Regions from separate parts of the Homo sapiens genome. Here region 2 is linked to region 1. A link means that fine-mapping ties the variant in region 1 to the expression of a gene that starts in the linked region. Tissue or cell type: whole blood. Region 1 holds a variant in brackets; the other region holds the start of a gene. All regions are shown on one strand. Distances are between the middles of the regions.

Region 1 (8,222 bases):
TCGCAACTGGCAAGTTGGTGCTGGCTGTTGGCTGGTAGTTCATTCAGGGCTCAGGGCCCAGGACCAAGAGTCGTCACCATGGCTTGCTTCAGCCTCCTTGAGGCATGATGGCTGGGTCCCAAGAGAAGAGAAATAGAAACTTCCAGTCTCTTAAGGCATTGGTCTGGAAGCTGGGACGGCATCACTTTTGCCATATTCTGTTGGTAACGCAGTTACATCGCCAGATTAAAGGGTAAAGAGATACAAATTCCCACTGCTCAGTGCAAGGAATATCAGTGATTTTAGGGGGCCCTGTTTTAAAACCCCTACAAGGTGCTAAGCGTGGATTTCTGGGGCTTTCTTGTTTTTTGTTTTTTTCTATGTGTTTTTTTTTTTTTTTTTGGTGGTGGGGTCAGGGAGGGCTTATAGGGTATGTTAAATCAGCAGAATAATTTTATTTATTTATTTGGAGATGGAGTTTCACTCTTTTGCCTAAGCTGGAGTGAAGTAGCGTGATCAGAGATGGAGTTTCACTCTTTTGCCTAAGCTGGAGTGAAGTAGCGTGATCTCGGCTCACTGCAACCTCCGCCCCGCTGGTTCAAGCAATTCCCCTGCCTTAGCCTCCCAAGTAGCTGGGATTATAGGCACCCACCGCCACGCCCGGCTAATTTTTATATTTTTAGTAGACATGGGGTTTCGCCATGGCTAGTCTGGAATTCCTGACCTCAGGTGATCCACCCACCTTGGCCTCCCAAAGTGGTGGGATTACAGGTATGAGCCACTGTGCCTGACCTATAATGTTTTTTAAAAATCAGTTTTGGAAAGTTTGCAGACATTAACTTTTCAAATGTAGCTTCCATTTGATTCTTTTTCTACTCTGCCTCTGATCCTCCACTTATGTATGTATGCTAGATCTTTTATTAGATAGTCTGTGTCTCTTATGTACTCTACTATATTTTGTATTCTTCTGTCTCTCCATGCTTTATTCTGTTTACTCTTTCCTGATTATATTTTTTAATTTTGTAATTTCCATTTGATGCTTTTTTGATCATTCAAAACTCTTCACCAAAATTCTAAATTTCCTTTTTTAACCTCTCGAATGTTATCACAGTTACTTTAAAGTCTATTTTGGATAACTTAAATATTTACAGTCCCCTCACAGATATGTTTCTTTTGTATATTGTTTCTGTTGGTTTTCTTTCATGTCTTATCTCCACATATGCCTGGTGAGTTTTGATTATGTGTTGGTCATTGTATTTGCAAGTATGCTCGTAGAAATAATCTGGAATGGCCGGGCGCAGTGGCTCATGCCTGTAATCCCAGCACTTTGGGAGGCTGAGGCAGGTGGATCACGAGATCAGGAGATCAAGACCATCCTGGCTAACATGGTGAAACCCCATCTCTACTAAAAATACAAAAAATTAGCTGAGCATGGTGGCACGTTCCTGTAATCCCTGCTACTCGGGAGGCTGAGGCAGGAGAATCACTTGAACCAGGAGGCAGAGGTTGCAGTGAGCCGAGATCACGCCACTGCACTCCAGCCTGGGTGACAGAGCGAGACTCCGTCTCAAAAAAAAAAAAAAAAAAAAAAAAAGAAATAATCTAGAGCCTAGTTTGATGTTTCCTTACAAAGAATGAATTTATTTTTGCTTCTCCCATTGCAACTAGGATAACCTCAGTCTAGTTTCTGGAACTGAAATCACTTGAGGCTGAACTGTGGTCTCTGTGAGAGCGTGTCTGTGTATGGCTCACCCTTATTCCTAGGCTACGTAGTTCTTTAGGACCCTAACCCAAAGTAAGAGATGTTCATCAGGGCTCTCCTCTTGGCAGACGCCTGGGCTCCAGTCCCTGTGTCCTGAGCCCCATGAGGCTGTTACTGGTGCTGCTCGTCTGCCCATCCTCTCCAGTAACAGCCACCTGAACACTGCAATTCCTGGGTTTCCATCATTCCTTCCAGCCTGGTGAGTCATCAGTGTCTTTTGAGGTATCCAGTGCCTGCCAGCAGATGTTTTTTAATAATTTGTCCAGCATTTCTGGCTGTCCTCAGTAGGTGGTCTGTTTCACATTCCCTAGTCTGCTGTTAATGGAAAGTGGAAGTTCTGAGAGAGAATCATCGTTCCCGTCAGCATTCAAATGCCTGATTACACTTTCCCCATTCGCTATCCTTTCCTTTATTTGCTCCTCACCACAGCAAAACTCCTCAAAAATATCTATCTTTGCAATCTTCAGATTCTCACATTGTGTCCTTAAACCCACTTTAATCAGGCCTTGGTTCCCTCCATTCCACTAAAAGTAATGTTGTCAAGGTCGTGCATGCCTCCGTGATGCTAATTCCAGTGATGAGTTTTCAGTTGTCATTCTCTGACATATCGGCAACACTTGATGTGGAGTACCCTGATGTTGAGAGGCTGGTGAGATGAAGGAAAAACCCAGCCAAGGGCAATGAGGAATGGCTTCCTTCCGCCTCCTCCTTCCCTATCTTTGTTGTGGTTTTTGTTGTTTCTGTAACACTGATTACGTTATAGTTTATTTAATGTACTTCCTTATTCTATGTTTTTACTTTAGTCATTTTGTTGATCTCCTCCATAATAACATAGGCTCGGGCCAAGCACAGTGGCTCACGCCTGTAATCCCAGCACTTTGGGAGACCAAGATGGGTGGATCACTTGAGGTGAGGAGTTCGAGACCAGCCTGGCCAACATGGCGAAACCCTGTGCCTACTAAAAATACAAAAATTAGCTGGGCGTGGTAGCAAGCGCCTGTAATCCCAGCTACTAGGGAGGCTGAAGCAGGAGAATTGCAGGAGAATCACTTGAACCCAGGGGGCAGAGGTTGCAGTGAGCTGAGATCGCGCCACTGCACTCCAGCCTGGGTAACAGAGTGAGACTCTGTCTCAAAAAAAAAAAAAAAAAAAAGGCTTCAGGAGGGCAGAGCATTTTATGCAATTGTTCATTAATTGACCCCTCCATTTGGCACAGATCACATGCCCAGTAGTTAACTGTTAATCAACGCACTCTCTGTGGAACAACAGGCTGGTCCCGTTGAGCCAACACTCTCTGGGCACTGCCTTCACTAGACTCTGGCTGGCTGCTGCGCTTGTAGAGGTATGCAAGACAAAACCTTTTGGTATGTTAAAAGCCCTGGTCAGAACTTTAAGTAACCATCACTGACATATAATGGTTATGGTTTTGAAAGTGCTTTTATAGTGGTTTTTCATCTGTCCTCACAGCACCTCTGGGAGGTAGGTAGGACAGGTACAGTTAGTCTCATGTTTCAAATGGGGCTCAGAGAGGGAAAAGGATTTCCCAAGATCACACAGCACCTTAGTAGCAAAACTTGGACTCAACCTCAACACTTAAAAATGAACAAAGCTGGCCGGGCGCAGTGGCTCATGCCTGTAATCCTAGCACTTTGGGAGGCCCAGGCAGGCAGGTCACCTGAGGCCAGGAGTTTAAGATCAGCCTGGCCAACATGACAAAACTCTGTCTCTTCTAAAAATACAAAAAATTAGCCGGGCATGGTGGCGGGTGCCTGTAATCCCAGCTACTCAGGAGGCTGAGGCAGGAGAATCACTTGAACCTGGGAGATGGAGGCTGCAGTGAGCCGAGATCGTGCCATTGTACTCCAGCCTGGGCAACAAGAATGAAACTCCATCTCAAAAAAAAAAAAAAGAAAAGAAAAGAAAAAGAAAAGTTTCCCTTTTTTTAAATATCTCATTTTAATGACTGCATAATAGTTTATTACATAGTTATACCATAATTTATATAATATTTTGTTGCTGTACATTTAGGTTAAACAATACTTACTTAGTTCCTACTATGAAGAGGGGCCAAGTACTCGAGGCTGGAGCTCTCACATGTGGCAATGAAATTAGAAAGTGGATATGGCAGGGCTGTGGTAAAATAAAATATAAAAATAATAAATGATATTACCAAAGAAAAGGAAAGTTTTTCAAAATAAAGGAAAATCTAGACAAGCATAGTGGCTCACACCTGTAATCCCAGTACTTTTGGAGGCTGAGGCAGGAGGAACACTTGAGGCCAGGAGTTCAAGACCAGCCTGGGCAACATAGCAAGACCCCCTGTCAACAAAAATAAAAAAAAATTAGGCCAGGCACAGTGGCTCACGGTGGCTAGTGCCTGAAATCCTAGCACTTTGAGAGGCTGAGGGGGGTGGATTGCCTGAGCTCAGGAGTTCGAGACCAGCCTGGGCAACATGGCCAAACCCCATCTCTACTAAAAACACAAAAAATTAGCCAGGTGTGGCAGCACACGCCTTTAATCCCAGCTACTCTGGAGACTGAGGTAGGAGAATTGCTTGAACCCGGGAGGTGAAGGTCGCAGTGAGGTGAGATTACAACACTGCACTCCAGCCTGGGTGACAAAATGAGACTCTATCTCAAAAAAAAAAAAAATTAGCTGGGCATGGTGGTGCATGCCTGTAATCCCAGCTACTCAGGAACTAAGGTAGGAGGATCCCTTCAGCCCAGGAATTCGAAGATGCAGTGAGTCATGATCACACCACCGCACCCCAGCCTGGGTTACAGAGCAAGAC[C/T]TTGTCTCTAAAAAACAAAGAAAGTCTAACCTAAACGCCATTATGTCATTTACATGTGTATAGGGGTGTGTGTGTGTGTGTGTGTGTGTGTGTGTGTGTGTGTGTGTGTGTGTGTTTGCTTGGGAGGGGAGTCGGGCTGGAGCTGGCCAGGCCGCAGCCTGGGGACCTTCTGATTCCAGCAGGGATGTGGGCCGAGGGTCCCGCCTTACTCATTTCGGGTCTTGCTCCTCTGTCCTGGCTCTACAGACTCTTCCAGCTGGAGTTGGAGGCTGACGCCCTAGTGAATTTCCATCAGTATTCTTCCCAGCTGCTACCCTTCTATGAGAGCTCCCCTCAGGTCCTGCACACTGAGGTCCTGCAGCACCTGACCGACCTCATCCGTAACCACCCCAGCTGGTCAGTGGCCCACCTGGCTGTGGAGCTAGGGATCCGCGAGTGCTTCCATCACAGCCGTATCATCAGGTGAGCAAGGGAACAAGACCATTTGGACAACGTGTGTGTACCTGCTTGTGTGGGCAGTGGGGGCCGCAGGCCTCGGTTCCCCTCCATAGTTTGACTTAAAAAGGAGCAGGGCCTGGCATGGTCGCTCACTAACGCAGTCCCAGCACTTTGGGAGGCTGAGGAGGGAGGATCACTTGAGACTAGGAGTTCAAGACCAGCCTGGCAAAATAGCAAGACCTTGTCTCTACGAAAAAATTAAAAAATTAGCATGTGTCTATACTCCTAGCTACTTGGGATGCTGAGGCAGGAGGATTGCTTGAGCCCAGGAGTTAGAGTTTACAGTGAGCTATGATTGCACCACTGCACTTCAGCCTGGGTGACAGAATGAGACCTTGTCTCTAGGAAAAAAAAAAAAAAAAAAAAAAAGGTGCTGCGTTGCTACCAGATTAAAATGTAAGAAGGACAATGTAATGTTTCCAGAGTCCGGAGTGCTCACCAGGTGCCAGGTCTGTGGGAGCTGATTTCTACCCACCATGAAATTGAATTTTCCCAACCCCCACAAGGTATCGTCATTTTATTTTACTTTATTTTATTTTATTTTATTTTATTTTATTTTATTTTATTTTATGTTACGTTATGTTATTTTATTTTGAGACGGAGTCTTATTCTGTCACCCAGGCTGGAGTGCAGTGGCGCGATCTTGGCTCACTGCACCCTCTGCCTCCTGGGTTCAGGTGATTCTCCTGCCTCAGCCTCCGGAATAGCTGGGATTACAGTAATGTGCCATCATGCCCGGGTAATTTTTTTTTTTTTTTTTTTTTTTTTTGAGACGGAGTCTCGCTCTGTCGCCCAGGCTGGAGTGCAGTGGCGCGATCTCGGCTCACTGCAAGCTCCGCCTCCCGGGTTCACGCCATTCTCCTGCCTCAGCCTCCCGCGTAGCTGGGACTACAGGCGCCCGCCACCACGCCCGGCTAATTTTTTTGTGTTTTTTAGTAGAGACGGGGTTTCACCATGTTGGCCAGGTTGGTCTCGAACTCCTAACCTCAGGTGATCTGCCCTCCTTGGCCTCCCAAAGTGCCGGGATTACAGGCGTGAGCCACCATGCCCGGCCCAGGTATCATCATTCTAGAGAGAGCTAACAGGACTTGTGCAGGTCACTCAGCCAGAGAGGGTGAAAGAGGGGCTTGGATCCTTGGTGTCTGCCCAGGCTGCTCTTCTGGAAGCTGAAGGCCTCCTTTTGTGAATCCATTCAGCCAGCAGATGGAGCAGCTGTTGCCCCTGGTGAGGGCACTGTCCCCACCCTTGCACAGGGCACCAGTTGGCCATCTTGTGCAGAGGTAGCCACACCTCCTCTGAGTCTCTATCCTAGATAGCTCAGTTAAGCTCCCAGGCCCAGAACTCAAAACCTCACTGCTGGCCGGGCGTGGTGGCTCACACCTGTAATCCCAGCACTTTGTGAGGCCGAGGCGGGTGTATCACTTGAGGTCAGGAGTTTGAGACCAGCCTGGCCAACGTGGTGAAACCCCGTCTCTACTAAAAATACAAAAAATTAGCAAGGCGTGGTGGCGCACGCCTGTAATCCCAGCTACTCGGGAGGCTGAGGCAGGAGAATTGCTTGAACCCAGAGGCGGAGGTTGCAGTGAGCCGAGATTGTGTCACTGCATTACAGCCTGGGCAACAAGAGTGAAACTCCACCTCAAAAAAACAAAACAAAACAAAAACCCTCACTGCACTTTAGTTTCCAGGCGTGCTTTTGGACAGCACTGTCTCATCTCACCATCACTCTGTCCATTTCCTGGGGCAGGCACAGCAGCTTGTGTCGATAAGGATATTGACGCCCAGAAAGGTTAAGTGAATTGCCTGAGGCTAGTGAGATATCCGTGTTCTGTGACCCTTTCCTGTGCCACCACCCTGCCCACTTCCTGCTGGTGTGGCCCTGGGGCCCATCTCTTGTACGAGTGAGCAAACTGAACAGAAACCTGATACAGGTCACATCAGATATAATTACATTCAAATCAGCCCAACTAGCTGAGTGGCGGGAATGCTCTTGAGCTCAAATAAACCAGAAAGTCCGAGTTTCCGAGTGCACTTCCCTGCATGTGCACTTAGGTCCCCCTGCCACCTTGTACCACACCTGCTCACCTCTGCTCACCCTGGCCCTCTCCTGCAGCTGTGCCAATTGCGCGGAGAACGAGGAGGGCTGCACACCCCTGCACCTGGCCTGCCGCAAGGGTGATGGGGAGATCCTGGTGGAGCTGGTGCAGTACTGCCACACTCAGATGGATGTCACCGACTACAAGGGAGAGACCGTCTTCCATTATGCTGTCCAGGGTGACAATTCTCAGGTGCTGCAGGTGAGCAGGGGGAGGGGCAGGGTGACTGGTACTGATACCTCCCGGTGTCCACGGTTCCCTTTGGGCCCCTAGGCTCAGGTGTCACTCTCAGGCCTCTCACTGTCCCCCATTGGTCCTTGAGGCCTGAGCTCCTTCATGGAGGGTGCAGACCCCTCCCTGGCTCTTCCCTCCCAGCCCTTTTCCAGGAGCCACGTCCTCAGTCTCTTTGCTTGATAAACCTGGGGACGGCCTCCAACCCAGCAAAATAAACCCCAAAAAAGGCCCAGCTCCAGTCAGTTAGTTCAGTTCCACTTTTCCTGAGCACAAACTGTGAGCCAGATGCCTGCCTGGAGGGGCTCGTGGGCCAGCGGGACCTGGGCTTAACCTTTTGCAAGCTTGTCCAATCTGTGGCCCTGCAGGCTGCATGCAGCCCAGGACGGCTTTGAATGTGGCCCAACACAAATTCACAAACTTTCTTAAAACATTATGAGATCCATGCATGGACCTTTTTTTTAGATCAGCTGTTGTTAGCGTTCATGTATTTTATGTGTGACCCAAGACAATTCTTCTGATGTGGCCCAGGGAGGCCAAAATATTGGACAACCCTATTTTACAGGAATTCAAACCAAGCAAACCAAACTGTCTCCAGTTCCTGTAGGCATTTGTGCCAGAGGCCCTCCTGTTAACGTTTTTGATTACCTGGGCAAAAGATGTGATTTTTTAATTGTGGGCAAGCAGATGGGGTGATACTATTAAATAGCTATTTCATATATTAGATTGAACAGAAAAGGCAGGATGTTGGATTATGTTTTATTGTCTAGAATTAGAAAATTCTTCTAAAGATCATGTTCTCTCTGCCTTGGCATCAGAATGCAACTACGTTATACCAGAAAATGTGGATTCCTTTTTTTTTTT
Region 2 (8,000 bases), 36 kb after region 1:
ATCCAGCAAATCGGCAGCAGAGCTTGTTCGGAAGCAAATAAGAGAGGCAGCGGCCGGGCGCAGCGGCTCACGCCTGTAATCCCAGCACTTTGGGAGGCCGAGGCAAGTGGATCATGAGGTCAGGAGATCGAGACCATCCTGGCTAACACGGTGAAACCCTGTCTCTACTAAAAATACAAAAAAATTAGCCAGGCGGGCATAGTGGCAGGAGCCTGTAGTCCCAGCTACTCGGGATGCTGAGGCAGGAGAATGGTGTGAACCCAGGAGGCGGAGCTTGCAGTGAGCCGAGATCGCGCCACTGCACTCCAGACTGGGAGACAGAGCGAGACTCCGTCTCAAAAAAAAAAAAAAAAAGGCAGCACCCAGGGCTCAGGTTCAAGCCTTAGCCCCTACTTCCCTACCACGTGGCCCCTGCAGCTGCTTCCCGGCCTGAGCTTCGCTGAGAGCCCTCATTTGCAAACTGGGTGATCAGTGCCCTCTCCACAGACTGGCTGGAGATTAAATGAAGTAATGATGCAAATACCTGGCAAATCACCAACACCAAGGAACACCGTCTGCCTTTCCTCCCCTGGCCACGACTTGACTTGGGCCAGCATCAGATGGGGTGGGCGGGATCCTTCTTGCAGCTGGTGTATGTGTGGTCCTGTTGGTACACAGATGCTGTCCTGAGCAGATGGCATGTGATGCCCGCACCAGCCGTTCTGGGGTCACGTGCAAGAGGCTGGCTGGAAATCATGCCAGGCATGCTCTTGCCACCAGAGACCTCTTGCCCTGTTCTCATGTGCCCCAGAGCCCAGTCTTGGGCCTCCCCTTGACGCTCCCCTTCGTGCCCCCTACCTGTGGAAGGTCTCTTCTGACTGCCCCTGTCCTGTTCCCAACAGGGTCAGGCCAACAAGGTGAAGAAACTCTCCATCGTTGTCTCCCTGGGGACAGGGAGGTCCCCACAAGTGCCTGTGACCTGTGTGGATGTCTTCCGTCCCAGCAACCCCTGGGAGCTGGCCAAGACTGTTTTTGGGGCCAAGGAACTGGGCAAGATGGTGGTGGACTGTGTGAGTGTGGGCCCCTCCCCCAGGCCACTTCCCTCAGGGTCTGTAGCCCAGGTCGATGGCTTCCCCTCATCCTGTGGGGCCTTTGGTGTTGGAGGAGACAGCAGGGCTCTGTCCATCGCCTTTAGCCAGCTGGAGGGAGAGAGAGTCCACAGTTCAGAGTCTCAGTGCGGGGCAGGGACCCTCAGTGACCACCAGCAGGGGGGTTTTCAAACGCTTTTTAGCTGCGGATCCCTTTCTGCAAACATAGCGCAGTGTAGAAGCCCAGAATGGACAAAGGCTCCAGAGCGGGCTGGGCGCTCACCCTGTAATCCCAGCACTTTGGGAGGCCAAGGCAGGCGGACCACTTGAGCACAGCAGTTTGAGACCAGCCTGAGCAATATAATGAGACTTTGTCTCTACCAAAAAATTAAAAACTAGCTGGACATGGTGGTGTGTGCCTGTGGTCCCAGCTACTCAGGAGGCTGAGGTGGGAGGATTGCTTAAGCCCAAGAGGCAGAGGCTGCAGTGAGCTGTGATCATGCCACTGCACTCCAGCCTGAGCAACAGAAGGAGACCTTGTCTCAAAAAGAAAGAAAGAAAGAGAGAGAGAGAGAGAGAGGAGGGAGGGAGGGAAACTTCAGGGAGAGGGGACATGGAGGCCTGTCGACTCAGCCGCTACCCTTTCCCCCACTCATCATCCCTGAAAGGGCACTGCTGAGACCTCTGCCCCTCTGATTGCACAGCTGGGACAGTCCCTGCAGTCCCAGGAAGGGGTTTTGCCCGAGCCGCTCTGCTGCTGTGTGGCTCAGCCTGACTCGAAAGAGCCTGGGGCTCCCCAGGCTGGGGCTCCGAGAGTGCAGGGCAGGGCCGGGCGGGGTGCGGGCCGGGCGGGGTGTGGGCCCGGCACTCACCAAGGCTGCTTCTCACCAGTGCACGGATCCAGACGGGCGGGCTGTGGACCGGGCACGGGCCTGGTGCGAGATGGTCGGCATCCAGTACTTCAGGTGAGGGCTCAGCCGCCCCAGCCCTTGGCCCCGTGCCCTGGCGTGGTCGGACTCACCGACCTTCCCCTCCCAGCCCTAGTGTGGACTTTCCCTTCCCCAAGGGTCTGCTCTGTTCCCCAAGCCCACCCTGGTCCTAGCTGGCGTCCCCTGCCCAGCCTGAGCATCCTAGGGTGACCCCCTCCTCCCTGGCCCGAACAGATTGAACCCCCAGCTGGGGACGGACATCATGCTGGATGAGGTCAGTGACACAGTGCTGGTCAACGCCCTCTGGGAGACCGAGGTCTACATCTATGAGCACCGCGAGGAGTTCCAGAAGCTCATCCAGCTGCTGCTCTCACCCTGAGGGTCCCCAGCCTCTCACCGGCCCCAGCTGACCTCGTCCATTCAGCCCCTGCCAGGCCAAGCCCAGCCACTGCCCTCCCGGGCAGATCTGGGCCCAGGCACCTCTGAGTCCATAGACCAGGCCTGGGAGAATGCCAAGCTGCCTGCCCGAGGCTGGTCCTGAAGGCCTGTCTCCCACTAACCCCGCCTTCCAGCACTTTCTGTCATTCCAGGCTGGGAAAGTCTAGAGCCCCCTTTGGCCCCTTTCCCTGACTGTCAAGGACAACTGACTCCCCCATCAGCTCAAACATTAAGGGTACCCGGGCACAACCGTACCCCTGCCCCCAGCCCCAGCCTCCCTGAGGGCCTGCCGGGCTGCCTCTGCCCCAGCCCCCAGCAAGGGCACTCCCAGGCTTCCTGGTGGGTGCAGCCCACTCCCTCTGCCCTCTGCTCCGTTCCCTGGGGGCTGGGACTAAAGAAATGGGTGTCCCCCACCCCATCAGCTGGGAAAGCCCAGGCCGCAGGAGTGGGATGCCCGTTGGACTTTGCCCCTCACACTGGCCCAGCCCCTCACACTGCCCCACCCCGAGAACCCTCAGCTCTCAAAGGTCACTCCTGGGAGTTTCTTCTTCCCAATGGAAGTGGCTTAAGAGCCAAAACTGAAATAAATCATTTGGATTCAAGTTCACCTGTGTTGTGTGTGCAGTGGTGTGAGATCCACCTGTTCCCCTGACCCCCGGCTCCCCTCGGCCTTGACCCTTGGCCTTGACCGGACTTTTCCTTTGTACCCGGACACTCTGTTTTCCAGGATCCCTGGGCAGGGACACCTCCTCTTTCCTCTAGGCCTCCCCTAAACCGGCCCTTAGGGTATGCAGAGGCAGCTGCCAGGCCCACATACCCCCGGCAGGCCCAAGGAGGGCCACAATCTTCAACTTCATCTTGGAGGACCAGGGAGAGCCCCATTTGTCACCCAGAGAGGCCGGGGACTCCGCGTGGACAGGCAGCGCGTGTGCAGGGCCGAGGTCTGCCCAGGGCTGGGCAACTCCAGCGTTTGTGCTGCTCCTGCTCCGGCAAGTGGAGGAGCTGGGCGGGCCAGAGCGGCTGTGGGAGCCAAGCTCAGAGGGCGTGGCCCCACTGTGAGCCGCAGGCCTGAGGACAGTGAGAAGTAAAGCGGCGTTCCCCTCCAGGGGCTGCTGCTGCTGGGTCTGGCAGAGAGAGTCCTGGGGGAGGGCATCGGGCAGCGCCCGCCCAGTAAGGTGGGCAATGCCTGGTATAGGCAGGTGGGAGGGCGGGGCCCCCCAGGGTTGGGGTCCTTGAGGAGGGGGTGACCCAGGAGGGGGCTCATCCACATGGGCACTTGTATCAGCCCACAGCTCCAAGGGGTGAATAATTGAAGGGCAGGTCACACGAGCCTGCCCGGCACAGGATGCCTTCCCTGCCGGATCTGGTTACGCCCCAGATCACATTCTGACATCCCGAGTTGGTGAATAATTAAGCTGCCACTCCTCTGAGGCAGGCCTCCATCTCCAGGTCCCTCTCCGAGGCTTCCTCGCTGCCAGCTGAGTCGTGGGCACCTGAGGGACTACCTACCACTGCTCCCGGCTGTGCCATCGCCACCAGCTCCCAGCCTCCTGCTCAGACCCGGGACAGCCCCTCCATGGCCCCCGAGATGGACCAGTTCTACAGGTCCACCATGGCCATCTACAAGGTGAGCACATGGGTGGCCAAGCCAGGCCTGAGCCCCTCCTCCCAGGGCACAGAAATCAGGCCCGCTCTGGAGGACGGAGGGCCAGCCGGGGCTACAGATGTCCTGGAAAGGGAAGCCTGGAGCCAGGCTGGGCCAGGGGTGGGTACGGGGGTAAGGATCCCCGAGAGCACTCAGCCATACAGCGGGAACCCCCAACTCCCAGATGCTGGACAAGGCAGGAGGGAGCCCAAGGCCCAGGGTGGGGAGAGTTGAGTCTGGATGAGAAGGGCCTGGCTGCCCGGCCTGGGAATAAAGAAAGACCCTCCCTCTCTCTCTCTGTCTCTCCCTCTCTCTCTCTCTCTCTCTCTCTCTCTCCCTCTCTCTCTCCCTCTCTCTGTCTCTCTCTCTCTCTGTCTCTCTCTCTCTCTGTCTCTCTCTCTCTCTCTGTCTCTCCCTGTCTCTGTCTCTCTCATTTCTGAGCCCCTCAGACTTCCTACTTCACCCCCGGGGGGTTGTTGCAGCCGCCACAGACATTTATTGAGCGCCTCCTGTGTGCAGGACCCTTTCACCTGGAGGCCTCACACCACCCACCTGTGAGGTGGAAAATGACCACCCTGCTTGATAGATGAGAAAACTGAGACCAAAGAGGTTAAACAGCTCATTCAAGGTCACGGAGGGAGGAAGAGGTGCTGCTGGGATTTGAACCGAGACCCAAGTCCAAGTCCAGGCCCAAGTCCAGGCCCGTCTTCACCATCCGGGGAGCTCTCTGCCCGGCCCCAGCCCGAGGAGGCCCACACTAATCCAGCCACAGCCTTGCCCATGGGGGGCTGTTCTCGGAGGAGGGCGAGAGCTGCCCTTGCCCCGGGGGTGACTGTTGGCAGCCCCAGGCGTGTAGCCCGGCAAGGCCTGGACACAGGGCAGGGCTGAGCCGTGCCCAGTGGGGACCACAGCAGGCGGGCCAGCTTCTGCCCAGCGGGAGGAGGAGAACCTTCCAGGTGCACCATCTCGGGAGGCACCTCGGTCCCGCCAGAGCAGACGTAAGCGGGAGCTGGCTGTGAGGGGACCACAGCTTAGAACAGGACCCCAAAAGATGGGCTCTGAGGTCCCTGCAGCCAAGAGCCAGGATTCTGGGTGAGCCTAGGTTTGTAGATGGGCCCCCCAAAGTCTGGGGCTTCTCACTGGGCTGGGGGTGCCCTGTCCCTGACGCCTGGTGACTTGACTCCATCCGTGGTTCCTTCTCGCTCCCCCATCTCTACACCTTTTTCCTCCCCTGACCCTGGGGTCCAGAGCATCATGGAGCAGTTTAACCCCGCCCTGGAGAACCTGGTGTACCTGGGCAACAACTACCTGCGTGCCTTCCACGGTGAGTGCCTGCCCGGGCCACCGAGCCCCAGCCCTGGGCCTCTGCTGTTCCCACCCACCCAGGCCCCTCCCAGATTCTCTGCATCCCACACCTGTTCATCCTCAACCCTACACCCTCCTACCCACCACCCTCACCCTCACACCTCTGCAGCCAGAGAGGCCTTATGCACCCCCACTCTCCTGTGCCCACGCACCCCAGTCCACACCCAGCACCCCTCATTGCCCCCTCCTTCAGGTGCCTCCAGACACTCCCATGATGCAGTACCAGGCCCTGCAGGCCCACACAGCCCCAGGGCAGCCCCTGACAGTGCATACATTTCTAGGCGTCACCTGGATGCCACCAGCTGAACCCACCCCTATACTCAGTCCCACCTCTGCACCCAGGCTCACACAGCAGCTGGCTTCCTCACTTCAACTGGCCACCACCCACACACCCTGCAGCTGGCCTTGACATTCACTCGGTCCCCGTGCAAACCCTTGTACCCGTCCGCTGTGGCCGCTCATACCTGCCAATAGCACCCCACTACCCACCAGTGCTGATCAACCCTGAACCTCAGGGCCTCCCATCCCCCTGCTTCTTAGATGCTTTCCACGCCACCTCCCTGCCCCCAGCCCTCACCTTATGCCCCTGCACCTGAGTTTCACAGCTCAACTGGTCACACCCTCCTCAGGGGCACACACAGATGCCCACACCCCACCCAGGACAGACACAGTCCCCTCCAGATGAAAAGAGCCTCCAGAAGGGTGGGGCAGAGGCAGGGCTGGACCAGACCTGTCCCTTCTGGTCCACAGCTCTGTCCGAGGCGGCCGAGGTCTACTTCAGTGCCATCCAGAAGATTGGGGAGCGTGCCCTGCAGAGCCCCACCTCACAGATTCTGGGTGAGGCTCCCCCTCCACAGCAGACCCCATTCTTGGGCCCTCCTTTTGCACCCTTGCCCTTCCAGGATGTCCCGAGTCCCTGACACAGGCCTTTCAGCCCAGGGCCCAGAGCCAGACTCTTGTTCTGGGGCCCAGGCTCCCCGCCACCACTCCCTGCCGGGCTGCTCCCAGGCTGGGACACACATGGCCTGGCTCCCAGAGAACCATATGGGAAGTTCCCGGACTTTGGTCCCAAAATCCAGTCTCGGGCAGGCCCTCTGTTGGCTTTCAGCGGAAGAGGGTGGTGGGTGGGCGGGGCAGGCTGCCACACACCAAAGCCACAGCTGCATCCATGCCTCCAGGGGAGATCTTGGTGCAGATGTCTGACACCCAGCGGCACTTGAACTCTGACCTGGAGGTGGTGGTGAGTATCAGGCCCCAGGGCCTGGAGGGGTCACTCGAGGAAAGTGGGCTATGTTCCAAGGAGAGGGCCCAGCCTACCAGATGCCCTTCCCAGGGAGGATGACCGTGGCTGCCCTTCCCAGCACCCGGCTCTGTGGGGCACGGTTCCCTGCAATAGTCGTTCAAGCCTCTAGCAGCCCTAGGAGGCTGGTGGCATTTCTGCCTCCATTTTATAGAGGAAGAAACTGAGTCTCAAAGAGCTAGTCATTGCCTGAGATGCCAGAGTGAATGGAGGCCCAAGGAAGAGAAAGGTCCTTTCACTGCAGCCCTCCTCACTGCAGCCTCCCAGGGAGCAGCCACATGGACCTGACCATGTCACTCCCAGGAGCAGAACCGTTCCACGGCCCCACTGCCCGTAGAACTGAACACAGGCTTCTCAGTGAGGGGTCCCTGGCTCTGTCGATCCAGCAGCTTCTCCTGACACCCCCAACACAGCCCAGCCCCCCGGAAGAGTGGGCCCTCTGCTGGTGTCCCCGCTGCGGGGCTGCTGTCCTGCTGTCCTCTCAGCCTAGAGCCACCGGTCCCTCCCCCTGCCGTCCAGTTGGGAAGCAGCTGTCCCCTCCTTCCCAAAGCCTCCTCTGACTCCCTGGGGCAAGTCCAGTCACCCCTCCCCCTGGACTCCAACAGATGATTCTGTCCGTTCTTAGCTCGTGGTGGGTTCAAAGCCCAGCTTCACCAGTGACTAGTTTTGTGACCTTGGACTCTATGCCTCCACTTACCTATCTGAGGAATGGAGAGAATCATAATAACTGCCTCCCAGGGTTCTTGAGAGGATGACGTGAATTAATAAGCATAAACCGTTTGCCCTGGCCCCTACTTACTGCCCCTGGATACCTTAGCTATGATAACCAGAAGTTAACTCACCTGCCCCTATCCCTCCCAAGACTGGGAGCGCCGCAGAGCCTTCCTTCCTCTCCGTAGCTCCAGGGCCTTCCGCCAAGCAGGGCTTCAGTGACACAGGGGAAAGAAAAGAGCTGAGGGAGTCAGCTTGGCTAGATGGAGAGAAGAGAGGGCTTTCCAAGGGAGCATGGCAGCGGGCTGCGCACAGCCATGAGCGGGCAGCAGGCAGGCATGAGCCAGGGCTTGGGCGCAGGGGCTGAGTGGGAGAGGTGGGGTGGGGCCTGGTGGTGAGGCAAGTGGGAAGGTTCGGAAGGAAATTTTAACTAATTGTTCTCCCTCCAATGTGTGAAGGGGAGCCCCTGGAAGTCAGGGTGCTCTTTGGGGGATACCATAAAATACTAGTCAGTTGGGCATGGGGAACAATCTTTTTTTTTTTTT

The links. PIP is the estimated chance that this variant, and not a neighbour inherited with it, causes the effect.
Region 2: BAIAP2L2 starts here. The variant in region 1 is fine-mapped to the expression of BAIAP2L2 in whole blood (INTERVAL, PIP 0.97).

What each region holds. Positions count from the first base shown.
Region 1 is chr22:38,142,211-38,150,432 of GRCh38, reverse strand. PLA2G6 (phospholipase A2 group VI) reads left to right here. Exons shown (of 17, transcript NM_003560.4): 3 at 4,780-4,995; 4 at 7,145-7,328. Among named protein-coding and RNA genes, the nearest start is that of PLA2G6, 36 kb to the left of the region's middle. RefSeq lists an enhancer at 7,184-7,684. The variant C/T (reference allele first, on the strand shown) is at 4,534.
Region 2 is chr22:38,106,536-38,114,535 of GRCh38, reverse strand. It overlaps BAIAP2L2 (BAR/IMD domain containing adaptor protein 2 like 2), which reads left to right and starts at 3,852. Exons shown (of 14, transcript NM_025045.6): 1 at 3,852-4,061; 2 at 5,328-5,403; 3 at 6,195-6,281; 4 at 6,623-6,684. The coding sequence starts at 4,011. It overlaps PLA2G6 (phospholipase A2 group VI), which reads left to right. Exons shown (of 17, transcript NM_003560.4): 15 at 882-1,049; 16 at 1,959-2,032; 17 at 2,231-3,041. The coding sequence ends at 2,375. RefSeq lists an enhancer at 1-22.